Linked DNA regions of Homo sapiens. The protein of the gene in region 2 interacts with the protein of the main gene of each other region in a pairwise test. Each region holds a gene or a part of one and is shown on either strand. Other genes may lie near its edges. The genes, in order: DCDC2 and C5AR2.

Region 1 (7,815 bases), on a different chromosome or scaffold from region 2:
AATCACCTTGATAATTAGTTATAATTTCTTACATTTAATCAGTTATTTTTAGAAACTATTTGAAATCATTAACTCCAGACCCAGTAATAGTGCACAAATTTAATATTAAAAGACCAACTGGGACCGGGTGCTGTGGCTCACACCTGTAATCCCAGCATTTTGGGATGCAAAGGCGGGCGGATCACCTGAGGTCAGGAGTTTGAGACCAGCCTGGCCAACATGGTGAAACATCTGTCTCTACAAAAAATACAAAAATTAGCCAGGTGTGGTGGCAGATGCCTGTAATCCCAGCTACTCGGGAGGCTCAGGTGCTTGAACCCAGGAGGCAGAGGTTGCAGTAAGCCAAGATCATGCCACTGCACCCAGCCTGGGCGACAAGAGCAAGACTTCATCTCAAAAAATAATAATAATAATAATAATAATAATAATAAAGATCAATTGGTCTATTTGCCTACCAACCCAAGATTGTTGCTTATAGCCCACAGTGCTTTATATCATCCCATTTGAAAAAGTAACGCTAGTAGAAAGCACAATTTAGATTTTACACCAGAAACATAGTACCCTGTTTCTAATTCATGCTCCCAGATCACTATATCCTTGTGTCATTATCTCTTCCAAATACTGTTACATTATCTCTCTGTTTACACTTCTGATCTGTGGAAAATACCAAAATCATATTAAGAAAAAACACATCTATTTTCTATAGTATTATTAAGTGCTTTATATAACTGCCAACTCTTTATTCCAAATGAAACCTGGAAGAGAAAAAATGTTTTAAACTTGTAATTGTGAATTTTAGAAAAGCACTAGAAGTTAAAATTTCAAGCTTACAACTTCCACATAATTAAAAATATATCCTTTAAGAAAAATATATTATTTCTATATTTATGGAAGAACATCTCTTAAGAATTCATAAAAAGGACGAAATTATGTTTTAATTATGTTTTTATGTTTTCCCCATACATACCTCACAAGGCAACTATAAATCAATTTAGTCAGTCCATGAAGTTGTGATTCAGGAATTGGTTTCATTATAATAACTTCTAAAGTTTTACAATTTCTATCAGATGCCTTCTAATTACAAAGAAATCTGCTTGAAATTCTAACTATATCATGCTAGGAAAAATAAATATTTGCTGATATCCCTAGGGCAAAAACATAGTAAAACAGTCTTAATAGAAATAAGGCAAAAAACAAGTTAAATTGAGCAGTCACAAACTCTTCATATAGTCTACTTTTTTCTTCCTAATACACTTTTATTTTTGTTGAAAACTATTTGAAAATAATTTAATCTTTGGAATAGCCAATATCAGGTTCTCTAATAACATAAGGGAGAAGAGAGAGATACTATTGGTAAAGATAGACTGGATCAGTGAAAATCCACAGGATTTCCATTATCTGCAAACCATACATCCAGGCTTTATAATATAACTGGGTGCTCCTTTACAATTCCTTCCTGAGTGTGCGCCATTGGAGCCACAAGCATGCAAGCCTGAAAGCATTTAAGTGACGGCATGGCGATACTAGTCACTAACACTCTGAACCAATGCTTCCTCCCACCAAAATGAACGCCTTGCTCTGTCTTTGTAGTTCAAAGGTGGATTTTGGCTAAGGAGGAAGAAAGAAAGGCATGTTAACAAGTCATGGACACATTTTGATCTACTGCCATCTCCAAATTATGTCTGAAAGTAAATCGCAATCTGTTCATTCAAGAGTTTATTGCTTTAAGAAAATAGTACATGCTTTCCTATTACCAGTTCTTTAAAATTCTACGCCTTCCTAGAGAAAAATTATTTAGAATAAACTGCCTTCTAAACTTATAATAAAGCGTACAATAAGAGTGATCCTATTTTTCATCCTTTACAAGTGGCAATTGTCTTCCAGTGCAAATTCTCCTCTGTCCGTCTTATTTAATATTTCTATATGACTTTTAAAACACATGCAATAAAAGTAAGTAATTATCCTTTAGTAGCCATTTAAAGTTATCTGGTCTTTCCACTAGGCTTCTAATGTTATAATTCGTAGGTAGTATTCGACCATAGTGTCACATTATATTCAGCAATAACTATGTGCTTATCTTTCAAGTATGATAACCCTTCATTTTTCTTGCGATCCATATACTCTCTTTTTAAAAATGTTCTAAGCCACGGCAGCATAGTCCTTGTTTTGTTGGTTGTTTTCATTTTCTTCTGGACTGGTAATTTTTACTTCTGGCCTTGGTGGTCTTTGAGGGTCTACATCAGCCTAGAAGAAAATAGATCAAAACAAAGGTATTCAGCTGTTTGGTTCACAAAGGTAATGACATTTATAAAGAAAAAATTACTCAAGATTCTATTTAATTATATAAATATTTAACTAAAAAGAGTTCCTGGGGTTCCCTTTGTTTTTTTGTCTATCATTACCCAGTGGACATACTGTTTTCTCAACACTTGTACAAAAGTCCTTTTGGGGTTCATAATCTACTAGTGCTTGAAAGGCCCTGACTCATTTTGTATGCTGCAGGCTTTATTTTTCTCATTTTTTCTTGATTTCTCTTTGAGCTTTTCTTCAATTTAGTTATACTTTTCAGTTTAGCATTTTCAGAGACAAAGGAAGAAAAAATTCAGGGACATTCTCCTAATTTTAGTTTCCTCCTAGAATTCACAAATTCGTTGTGAATATGGTACCAAGTACCATCAAGTAGCAAGTAGATAAGAAAAAGACAGAAAATCAAAATGTGGAGGCAGCATTTCTCCAACAACAACTATTGCTCCTGCCACTTGGGTTTTTCCTGTTAATAATGACATTGTCTCATGTACAACTCACCTTTCCCCGACTACACTGAAAACTGAGTGGGTGAGATTAGAACCAGCAGGTTTGCAAAGTCTGCTCTATGAAATCCTAGAGGCTCCACAGCCCCCACAAGGGCACCCAGTCTGGGGGACAGAGTAGCTCCAGGTTCCCCAAACCACACAGGCCATGACTGATGCTTTGAAGAAATTATATATATATATGACTGGTGCCGTGTCTTATTTCACACTGTTCCTTTGTGAAATGTCTCAAATGGTATCTTGAATATAGTACAAGTTCAATCTCAATAAATGTCAATTGTTTCTTGTAAATTCTCTGTATTTCCTGGTATTTTCCTACAATCATATCTCGCTTTGTACAAGAATTGTTACATGGAACAAAATGTTACACGGTGAACAGAATTTCTAGTCATTTTATTAGTAGACAGTCCTTCTGTAAAAGTTAACTATTCATTTTTAACTTACAATTCACATAAATTTGGTTTCTCATATATTTCGGTATGCTTAAAATATACCTATACTAATATGTTAGGGAGAACAAGATAAAATATATCATTGTTATAAGTAAGAGATGAGTCAAATAAGATTAAATCTCTTTGTGAGTAACTGCTCTGTTACTAATCCCTAATTAGGCCGGGCATGGTGGCACGTGGCTGTAATCTCATCACTTTGAGAGGTCAAGGCAAGAGGATCGCTTGAGTCCAGGAGTTAAAAACCAGCCTGTGCAACACAGGGAGGGAGACTTCCTCCATATTAAAAAATATGTATATATGGCCTGGCATGGTGGCACCTGTGGGCCCAGCTATCACAGGAGGATGAAGTGGGAGGATCACTTGAGCCCGGGAGGTCAAAGCTGCAGTGAGCTGTGATCACGCCACTGAACTCCAGCCTGGGTAGCAGAGTGAGACCTTGTCACAAAAAAAAAGTCCCTAATTAGATGTTGTCTCAAAAAAAAAAATCACAAACTAGGCACTTCCTTATTTGAATTCCCAAGAATTTAGATTCACTCTCATTACATACCACAGGTCAATGCCAAATTACATAACCTTGATCTTGACGGATGCCCAATTCCTATCAAAAGCCTATTTTTCCCCTTTAAAAAAATATTCATTTGTCATAATTGGCAAATAAAAATTGTATGTTTATAGCATACAAAATGATGTTTTGAAATATGTATCCATTGTGAAATGGCTTGAGTTAATTAACATACACCTTACCTCACATACTTATCTTTTGTGGTGAGAACCCTTCAAATCTGCTCTGTTAGTGATTTTCAAGTATACAATACATTGTTATTATACGTTAGACACCTTACTGTACAATAGATCTCTTGAACTTATTCCTCCTTTCTCGCAGAAATTTTGTATCATTTGACCAACATCTCTCCAACCCTGTACTCAGTCCCTGGTAACCACCATTCTACCTTCTACTTCTATGAGTTTAACTGTTTTTAGATTACACATATAAGTGAGATCATATGGTATGTGTCTTTCTTTGGTTGGCTAATTTCACTTAACATAATGTCCTCCAGGTTTATTCATGTCATTGCAAATTACAGGATTATTTTTTAAAGTTATATTTATGGAAGATGGAAGGACAGGCAATCCATTCATTTCTGTAAAATCTATTTATGTGATATGTTGAATTAAGCTAGACCACTGGAAAAAAATCATGTTGGATCTTACTATCTAGTCCCACACAGAATTACACTTTGATTTCATTTTGTAAGCTTTCATCAAAAGCTACTACAACAAAGAGTTGTATGAAACCTACTATTACAGGTGCCATATAAATGACGCTGAGGACTATGTAGAACTAATATGGGGAATTTCTTATAGAATAGGACTATGATTATCTCACCTTGAGAAAAGATAAGAGACATGCTGAGCATTTTCATTTAGATGTTAAGAACATTTTGAATAACTCATATAGTGGATTGCAGATAACTTCGTACTGTTACTGAAACCTGGCCACCAGAACATTTTGCATTTTGCCACCGCTAAACTTGCTTTCCCTAAGCAAGATAAATCAGATGCATCAATAATAAATAATCAAGTAGACCTCAGTGATCATAGTGGGTATTAGGAATGAGTAGTCCAAGGCCCACTTCAGCAGTTACAGCCTTGAGGGAGGTGGACCTTGAACTGACGGATAGACAGGAAGGGATGGGATAAGCAGATGGTGAGAATGTTATGGAGAACATCCTGCCTCTTATGCTGTGAGACTCAACTTGAGCCTGGCAGCAACAGGATCATATTGTCCCGTGGAAGAATGCCAGGACTGATGAGTATCCAACTCCAGGATCAGACATAGAAGAACAGGCTAGGAAAAGAGAGATTTCACCAGATATTACTTTTTCTGTTCTCTTATTTTCACCACATATTTCTTTATCCTCTCTGTATAATAAATAGAACTGTATACTACCCAAGTGCCTAATGTGTTGAATGCTTAATTTGATTAATCTATTTAAAGTAGAAAAAAGCAAACTAACTTCAGTACTTCTAGAGATCAAAGAAATCACTCATAATAGAGAAAGTATTCCTTATTTCATGTCTAGGTCTCACTGGTCTTGATATTCTTTTTTGGTTTCTACCTTCTCTGGTCTTAACTTATTCTTACTTTTTTATATTTCTTTCTTGGATTATGTATGTTCTTAGAAGGCTCTGTACATTTTCTTGTAAAATTAGGCAGGAGGTAAGTAGATGGATGGGTCAATGGCTAAATGTATGAATGGCAGAAGGGCAGACACAAACTGTCAGGTCAATGGCAGTATTGTTAAATGGTTGAAATAACTAGTAAGTAAAGGGATTAAATGGTATTGGATCTTTCCTACTCAACCACAAGTGGTTTCAATACAAGTCCTAAACACTTGATTAATTCTCTGAATGCACGCATGTACACACACACATATTCATGCATTCACATAAGCAAGCAAAAGCAATAGAAATACCTCATCTTGTCCACTGCCAGCTCCTTGAGACTTTCTTTCCTTGTCTAGGACCAGTTGAAGCTCATTATTAACCTGCTGCAGCTCCTCACCATTCTCCTCATCGGTGCCTCCATTTACACGAGCAGGGCGTGCCTGCTGCTCACTGTGATCCAGAATCTCCTCGACTTGCTCAGGGGCATCTGTAGCCTCCCTACCTCCTTCCTCTTCAAGGTCACCATTCATTCCTGAAAAGTCTTCTTTCTGTTCTGCATCCTTGTTTGCCTTCTCTCCATCTTCTTCCTCGTCTACTATTTCTGCTGGCCTCTGATGGATCAAAAGGAATAATGGATAAAAGTAAGAAGCATAACAGAACATTTCCACTGCACATCATAGTAATGTAATACTTATATTACAGTCAAGTAAAACATTCTTACATTTGCATAGTACTTTACAGTATAGAACGCACTTACGTTTACTGAGTACCTACCACATGCCACATGTTACAAGCATTCCCTCATTTAATCCTCACAACAATCCTTTGAAATTGTTATCATTCCCATTTTGCAGATGAGAAAACTAAACAGGTGGAGCCCAAGATCCCACAGAAAGAGCCAGAGTTTGAACTAGGCCTGTGACTCCAGAACCAGTGCTTGTAACCCCCATGGCAGATAGAAAGCCAAACCGCAAGGTCCTTGGCCACTGTCTAGTGAAGCACCTGGCCCAGAGGAAGAGGTTTAAAAAAAAAAAGTCTTTGTGGAAAGATTGTCATCCTCAAGGCTAAGGATGAGGGCAATGGCACCAGGCTGTGAATTCATGTTTTCTGACGTGGAATGTAGACAGCTTTCCCCACAATGCCTAAGGAAGCTGACAGCTTCTCTCTAAACACAATAACTGATTTTCCTGCAGATCTAAGGTCAAGAAACTATATGTCCTCTCTGTAAGAATAATAAATGCTGAGGGCCAGGCACAGTGGTCACACTTGTAATCCTAGCACTTTGGGAGGCCGAGGCGGGCAGATCATGAGGTCAGGAGATCGAGACCATCCTGGCTAACATGGTGAAACCCCATCTCTACTAAAAATACAAAAAAATTAGCTGGGCATGGTGGTGCACACCTGTAGTCCCAGCTACTCGGGAGGCTGAGGCAGGAGAATGGCGTGAACCCAGGAGGCAGAGCTTGCAGTGAGCCGAGATCGCGCCACTGCACTCCAGCCTGGGTGACAGAGCAAGACACCATCTCAAAAAAAAAAAAAAAAAAAAAAAAAAAAAGAATAAATACTAAAGTATTTCATAAACCTTAATCAAGCATTTCACTGTTCTACTGTTATTTTGATACACATAAATCTGCTTCAAGAGGGAACAGGAGGCCAGGCACGGTGGCTTATGCCTGTAATCCCAGCACTTTGGGAGGCCGAGGCGGGCAGATCACGAGGTCAGGAGATTGAGACCATCCTGGCTAACACGGTGAAACCCCATCTCTACTAAAAATACAAAAAATTAGCCAGGCGTGGTGGTGGGCACCTGTGGTCCCAGCTACTCAGGAGGCTGAGGCAGGAGAATTGCATGAACCCGGGAGGCAGAGCTTGCAGTGAGCCCAGATAGTGCTACTGTACTCCAGCCTGGGCGACAGAGCAAGACTCCATCTCAAAAAAAAAAAAAAAAAACAAGGGGTGGGGGAGGGAACAGGAGGCCAGCTTTCAGAGCCAAGACTTTGGAGAAAAACCCAGGTTCAAGTCCTGACCAGGCACTTACTGGCTGTTACCTAACTTTGGTGAGTTTCAGATTCCCCATTTGTAAAATGGGAACGTAACAAAACTTCCATGAAGATTAAAGAAAAGTTATATAAAGTGTCATAGTTTCTGGCACATCACAGATCCTAAAAAACATGGAAATCCCTTCCCATTTGTTACAATACATTCTCTCCTGGAGCCACCATATTTCTTCAATGCTATCAATAAAATAACACGGTTTTTTTGTTGTTTTTTGGTTTTTTTTGAGACAGAGTCTTGCTCTGTCGCCCTGGCTGGAGTGCAGTGGTGCGATCTCTGCTCACTGCAAGCCCCGCTTCCCCGGTTCATGCCATTCTCCTGCCTCAGCC
Region 2 (7,691 bases):
AACTTTCTTTTTTTTTTTTTTTTTTTTTTTTTTTTTTTGAGACGGAGTATCACTCTGTCGCCCAGGCTGGAGTGCAGTGGTGCGATCTCGGCTCACTGCAAGCTCCACCTCCCGGGTTCGCATGATTCTCCTGCCTCAGTCTCCCGAGTAGCTGGGACTACAGGCGCCCGCTACCACTTCCGGCTAATTTTTTGTATTTTTAGTAGAGACAGGGTTTCACCGTGTTAGCCAGGATGGTCTCAATCTCCTGACCTCATGATCCGCCCACCTCGGCCTCCCAAAGTGCTGGGATTACAGGCGTGAGTCAACATGCCCAGCCCAATCCAGGAAACTTTCTGTGCATATAATTTGCCCAGCTGTAAGCCCAAAGCAATGGTATCGTAGATGGCATTTCCTTTGTAACGTCTTAACCAGAAATGGGAGCTTTCAACATACGTTGTTCCATTTCTTCATCTTTTCCACTTAACGTGCCCGATATCTGTTTTCCTGTCTATCTGTACAGATATCAACCCCATTCGTCCTCAAAGCATCAAAAACAGTCCACTGTCTGCCCAAGTGGTGCTTATTAACTAAAGGCCATTCAATAACAATGGTAAGGAGAATAATGAGAAACAGGGCCAGGTGCAGAAGCTCACACCTGTAATCCCAACGCTTTGGGAGTCCTAGGCAGACGGATCACTTGAGGTCAGGAGTTTGAGACCAGCCTGGCCAACATGATAAAATCTCATCTCTGCTAAAGATTTAAAAAAAAAAAAAAATTAGCTGGGCGTGGGGGCGAGTGCCTGTAATCTCAGCTACTCAGAAGGCCGAGGCAGGAGAATCCCTTGAAGCTGGGAGGTGGAGGTTGCAGTCAGCTGAGATCACACCACTGCACTCCAGCATGGGTGACAGAGTGAGACTCCATCTCAAAAAAAAAAAAATTGGATTTGGCTTAGATGATTTTGTCTTGCTGTTGGGTAATGTAAATGTTCTGAACACATTTGAGGTAGGCTACGCCCGTGAGGTCAAGGCTGCAGTGAGCCAAGATCGCGCCACTGCACTCCAGCCTGGACAACAGAGTGAGACCCTGTCTCAAAAAAAAAAAGTAGGCTATGATGTTCAGTAAGCTAGGTGTATTAAATCCAATTTGATTTACAATATTTTCAACTTATGTTGAAAATGTTGGGGGCTTTTGTTTTGTGTTTTCGTCTTGTTCAGTCACCCAAGCTGAGTTCAGTGGTTCAACCTCGGCTCACCACAGCCTCTACCTCCTAGGCTCAACTGATCCTCCTGCCTCAGCCTCTGGAGTAGCTGGGACTACGGGTGCACGCCATCATGCCCAGCTAATTTTTTTTTTTTTTTCTGTATGGACAGCCCTTACTCTGTTGCCCAGGCTGATCTCAAACTCCTGGGCTCAAGAAATCCTCCCACCTCAGCCTCCCAAAAGTGCTGCCATTACAGGCGTGAGCCACTGTGCCCAGCCTTACGATGGGTTGATAGAGATGGGACCCCATTGTAAGTCAAAGAGCGTCTGTACTTATATCTAGCTTTTAAATCATAGGTACCCTTCTTATTATTTCATAATAATTAAAATAATAGATGGCTTTTATTGAGCACCTATGACCTACAAGATATAACCCTCAACACAAACCCTTGAGGTCAATATTATCATCCTCATATCCCACAACATCAGCTCCTTCCAGCCTCGGGTGCCGCTGTGTCCCTGGCATCTGGGACAGAACCTGGCACACAGCACAGGCATGGTCGATATTTGGTAAGTGAAAGGATAAAAGAGTAAACTGAGGCACAGAGAGACTAAGTGGTCACTTAGGTTTCTTTTGTTGTGATTGCAAGCACCCTCACATGTGCCTCTTGGTGCACGCCTGTCTGTGCATCCAGTCTTGCTGGGTTCTCTGCTCTGGAAAACCCTGGAGCAGAATCAAAGAAGGCTGGCCGGGCGCAGTGGCTCACACCTGTAATCCCCGGCACTTTGGGAGGCCCAGGCAGGTGGATCACGAGGTCAGGAGATCGAGACCATCCTGGCTAACATGGTGAAACCCCATCTCTACTAAAAAATACAAAAAATTAGCTGGGCGCGGTGGCGGGCGCCTGTAGTCCCAGCTACTCAGGAGGCTGAGGCAGGAGAATGGCGTGAACCCAGGAGGCGGAGGTTGCAGTGAGCCGAGATCGCACCACTGCACTCCAGCCTGAGCAAGACTCCATCTCAAAAAAAAAAAAAAAAAAAAGGAGTCTGAACATTCTTTATTCCTGAACATCCATCTTCTAGGATTCCTCCCTCACGACCCAGCAATCAGCCTCCTTTCCGCAAAAGAACACATATGCTCACCAGAATACATGTGCCAGAATGTTCACAGCAGCCCAAGATGAGAAACCGTCCAAATAGCCACCCACAGCAGAATGGATAAACACATCATGGGGTGTTCACCCTGTGGAATATTCTACACGATGAGAATGAACAAACACCACACAAGAATGTGGACAGATTTTGTGATAGAACATTGAGGGGGCCAGGCACGGTGATTCACGCCTGTAATCCCAGCACTTTGGGAGGCCAAGGTAGGTGGATCACCTGAGGTCAAAAGTTGGAGACCAGCCTGGCCAACATGGTGAAACCCCATCTCTACTAAAAATACAAAAATTAGCTAGGTGTGGTGGCGTGCACCTGTAATCCCAGCTACTCAGCAGGCTGGGGCAGGAGAATCACTTGAACCTGGGAGGCGGAGGTTGCAGTGAGCCAAGATCGCACCACTGCACTCCAGCCTGGGAGACAGAGTGAGACCCTGTCAAAAGAAAGAAAGAGAGAAAAGGAAAGAAAGAGAAAAGAATTGGAATCGCTGAGTTAAAGGGCTTGCTTGCTACACATGCTACAGTTTGGTGGATCTGCCGAAAGCTGCAGGAATTCCTGCAGGTTTGAGAGAGGCTGTTTCCCATACATCTGTGTGTGAAAAACCATTTGGGCAGGGCACAGTGGCTCACGCCTGTAATCCCAGCACTTTGGGAGGCCAAGGCGGACAGATCACCTGAGGTCGGGAGTTCGAGACCAGCCTGACCAACATGGAGAAACCCCATCTCTACTAAAAATACAAAATTAGCCAGGCATGGTGGCATGCGCTTGTAATCCCAGCTGAGACAAGAGAATCCCTTGAACCTGGGAGGTGGAGGTTGCGGTGAGCCAAGATGGCACCATTGCACTCCAGCCTGGGCAACAAGAATGAAAACCTGTCTCCAAAAAGAGAAAGAAAAAAAATGCTTAGATCCTTTGACAAGAGCTTTGCTGCTGGGCTGCCCAAGTTAATTCAAGAGCCCAGGACTGTGACGTGCGTTCCAGTGTGGCTGTAATAAGACTGCACTTCTCAAACTCTAGTTCTGCTTCCCAGATTCTGAAAGTAATGATTCCGAGAAGCCAAGATCATGCAATCTCTCTCTCCCTCCTTCCCGCCCTTGTAGCCTCCATCCTTACCGTCTCTTCCAAGAGTGTCCCCACGTGAGTCAAACGCCACTTGGGAGCCCAATCCGGGCCCACAGCCAGGACCCAGGAGGTCTGGGGTCTCTCCCTGCCGTGTCTGGCAGCTGGTAGAGTCCTGGAAATCCGTCCTGTTTGCCAGGGCTCCTGTCGGATGCTGCTGAGCACTGCCACCTCACCAGTCCCAGTGAATCTTTATAAGCAGTACAAAATAGGAGTGGCCTTGTCTCGCTCTCAGGGTGTGTTTGTCCTGTCTTCTTCCCGTGACTCACAGAACCCAAAATTACGGGGTGGCTGGCAGGGCAGGAGAGGGCTCGGTTGGGTGGAGGGCTGATCCCAAGTCCCCAACCCTAGTCTCGAAGTCCCACCTTCCTGGAAGCCAGACCTGCATGCGGTTTGCTCTTTAACGCCTTAGAGGTCTTGGCCTGGATTCTGTTTGCCCACAACATGCCAGCTGCCCCCAGCCACCTCCAGGCCTCTAACTGTGTTCAACCCCTCCCTTCTGCAGCCTCAGGACAGACAAACATCCCTCCCTCCTCCTCGGCTCTGAGGAAGACAGCCTGGGGTCACATTCTCCACAAAAAGACCACAGCAGCTGAGCGCAGGGCCCAACGCCTCAGTGGTAGAAAAAGCACAAACAACTCCTTTCTTGGGCCTCAATTTTCCATCTGTAGAATGGGAAGATGTTGTTGGCCATAGCGATGCTTTACTTTTTTTAGAGATGGAGTCTTGCTCTGTCGCTCAGACTGGCGTGCAGTGAAAACATTATGCCTCACTGCAGCCTCAAACTCCTAGGCTCAAGTGATCCTCCCACCTCAGCCTCCTGAGTAGCTAGGACTACAGGCATGCACCAACATACCTGGCTAATTTTTTAAAATTTTCTGTAGAGGTGCGGCCTTGCTGTGTTGCCCAGCCTCAAGCCATCCTCACACCTCGACCTCCCAAAGGGCTGGGATTACAGAAGTGAGCCACAGCCGTGATAGCAATTCTTAACCTCTTCCAGCATATCACAGTGGCTGAGAACAAGAACTCAAGGGCCAGAATGATGAGATTCATATTCCAGGTCGACACACCCTCATCAAAGTTCAGGGCCTCAGCCCCTCTGAACCTCAACTTCCTCATCTGTGCAGTGGATGTTTGCTATGAGCGTTGGATACATTTAAAACGCACAGAACTGGCTGGGCGCGGTAGCTCACATCTGTAATCCCAGCACTTTGGGAGGCCGAGGCAGGTGGATCACTTGAAGTCAAGTGTTCAAGACCAGCCTGGCCAACATGGCAGAACACCATCTCTACTAAAAATACAAAAATTAGCTGGGCGTGGTGGTGCGTGCCTGTAATCCCAGCTACTCGGGAGGCCGAGGCAGGAGAATCATTTGAACCGAGGAGGCGGAGGTTCCAGTGAGCCGAGATCTCACCATTGCACTCCAGCCTGGGCGACAGAGTGAGACTCTGTCTCAAAAAAACAAAAACAAAAAAACCGGAGCAGTGCCTGGCACATAGTATACGCTAGGCTCACGCAACAGCAACAAGACTGTAACGTGAATTCTTAAAGTACACATACCACGCAGGCTTAGCAAGAGGAAGTGGCTCCAACCCCAACTTTGGAACCTCTTTATTCAGCAGTTCTTTCTGTTTGTGCTTTTTTTGTGCGTGCTTTAGGGATTCAAGGGATATATTTACACACTTCTTTTGTTATTGTTTTAGAGAATGAAATCACTTTGCTAGAGGAAGTTGTTCGTGAGACAAGGAGCTGGGACTCACTGTTTGACCCAGGGCTTCCTCCACTCTGTTTCCCTGACTAGGTGACCCTGCGTTGGCTGACCCTCACCCCGGACCCTCAGAGAGGAAAACATCCCCCAAGTCCCCTCCCCTCCTCTTCTGTCCCGGGAAGCCCCCTCCTTGGGAGAGGAGGGACATCCTGCCAGCCCCAATCTCCTGTGGGAATCTGCCCTGGCCTGAAGAAGAGATTAAGAGGAAAGAAACCGAGGTGGAACCTTCCCTTTATCAGCTCAAACTTTCTTTTTTTCTTTCTTTTTTTTTTTTTTTTTGAGACGGAGTCTGTCTCTGTTGCCCAGGCTGGAGTGCAGTGGCGCGATCTCGGCTCACTGCAAGCTCCACCTCCCGGGTTCACACCATTCTCCTGCCTCAGCCCCCCCGAGTAGCTGGGACTACAGGCACCCGCCACCACGCCCGGCTAATTTTTTTTGTATTTTTAGTAGAGACGGGGTTTCGCCGTGTTAGCCAGGATGGTCTCGATCTCCTGACCTCATGATCTGCCCACCTCGGCCTCCCAAAGTGCTGGGATTACAGGCATGAGCCACCACGCCCGGGAGCTCAAACTTGCTTTAACTTGAAAAGTTAACGATGGTCTGTTCCTCAGATGCTTCATCTTGATAAACTCCTGATACATCCACTAAGTTTTTCAACATACATTTCTTAGAATTGCAGCCAGGCAGGATGGCTTACACCTCTAATCTCCACACTTTAGGAGGCCGAGGTGTGAGGACTGCTTGAGGCTAGGATTTTGAGACCAGCCTGACCAACATAGTGAGATGCTGTCTCTGGGGGAAAAATATATATTTTTTTAATCCAGGGTCTGACTCTTCACCCAGATTGGAGTGCAGTGGTGTGATCACAGCTCACCGCAGCCTTGACCTCCTGGGTTCAAGCAATCCTCCCACCTCAGCCCCCAAAGTAGTTGGGACTACAGGCTCAAGCCACCACACCCAGCTAATTTTTTAAAAAACTTTTTGTAGAGATGGGGTCTGTCTCTGTTGCCTAGTCTTGCCTCCAATTCCTAGGCTCGAGCAATCCTCCCACACTGGCCTTCCAAAGTGCCGTGATTACGTGTGCTAGCCACAGCATCTGCCCCCCTAGAATTTGTTTTAATTAGCCAGGCGTGTTGGAGCGAGCCTGTAGTCCTGCTACTCTGGAGGCTGAAGTGGGAGGTGGAGGCTGAGGAGGGAGGATCGCTTGAGCCCAAGAGCTCAAGGCTGCAGTGAACTGTGAATGCACCACTGCACTCCAGCCTGAGCAACAGAGAAAGGCCCTGACTCGAAAAAATAATTTAAAATTTTAAAAAAATTGCCAGTCACGGTGGCTCATGCCTGTAATCCCAGCACTTTGGGATGCCAAGGTGGGTGGATCACCTGAGGTCGGGAGTTCAAGACCAGCCTGACCAACATGGAGAAACCCCGTCTCTACTAAAAATACAAAATTAGCCTAGGTGGTGGGCGCCTGTAATCCCAGCTACTCGGGAGGCTAAGGCAGGAGAATCGCTTGAACCTGGGAGGCGGAGGTTGCGGTGAGCCGAGATCGCGCCATTGCACTGTAGCCTGGGCAACAAGAGCGAAACTGCGTCTCAAAAAAAAAAAACCAAAAAAACAAATTTTTAAGTGTCTTAGATTTGAGGCTGGGCGCAGTGGCTTACTTCTGTAATCCCAGCACTTTGGGAAGCCAAGGCCAGTGGATCATTTGAGGTCAGGAGTTCCAGACCCACCTGGCCAACATTGTGAAACCCTGTCTCTACTGAAAATACAAAAAAAAAAAAAAATTAGTCAGGCTTGGTTGGGGAGTACCTGTAATCCCAGCTACTCAGGAGGCTGAGGCAGGAGAATTGTTTGAACCTGGGAGGTGGAGGTTGCAATGAGCCAAGATGGCACCACTGCACTCCAGCCTGGGCGACAGAGCAGGACTCCGTTTCCAAAAAAACAAAAACAAAACAAAAATCTTAGATTTGGGAAGGCAAAGATTTTCTGGTGTCCCTGGAGCTGAGGGCTGTCACTTGGAGGTCTGGGGGTTGCTATGGGCCAAGAACAGGGTCTCTACAGGCCTCGGAAGGCAGGAGGGGGGCCAGTGTGTACGTGCAGGGGATTCTCTCTCAGCCACCCTGTGAAAAGCCGAGCACTACCCCCTCAACTCACCAGCCATTTCCTCCTGGGAGAAATTTTGAATGAGAACATCCTACAAGGATTTTTTTTGCTTCTTTTTTTCTTTTTCTTTCTCTTTTCTTTTTTTTTTTTTTTGAGACAGAGTCTTGCTATGTCGCCCAGGCTCGAGTGCAGTGGTGTGATCTTGGCTCACTATACCCTCTGCCTCCCAGGTTCAAGCAATTCTCCAGCCTCAGCCTCCTAAGTAGCTGGGATTACAGGCACCTGCCACCATACCCAGCTAATTTTTGTATTTTTAGTAGAAACGGGGTTTCACCATGTTGGCCAGGGTTGTCT

The links.
Region 1: the proteins of C5AR2 (region 2) and DCDC2 interact in binary tests that used the Homo sapiens proteins (3 or more experiments, as listed by UniProt).

The regions. Positions count from the first base shown.
Region 1 is NC_000006.12:24,172,591-24,180,405, forward strand, and holds part of DCDC2 (doublecortin domain-containing protein 2), read right to left. Parts: intron 6,043-7,815; coding exon 5,740-6,042; intron 2,245-5,739; coding exon 2,140-2,244; 3' UTR 1-2,139. UniProt on the Homo sapiens protein: Protein that plays a role in the inhibition of canonical Wnt signaling pathway. May be involved in neuronal migration during development of the cerebral neocortex. Involved in the control of ciliogenesis and ciliary length.
Region 2 is NC_000019.10:47,328,119-47,335,809, reverse strand, and holds the start of C5AR2 (C5a anaphylatoxin chemotactic receptor 2), read right to left. Parts: upstream 3,636-7,691; 5' UTR 3,461-3,635; intron 1-3,460.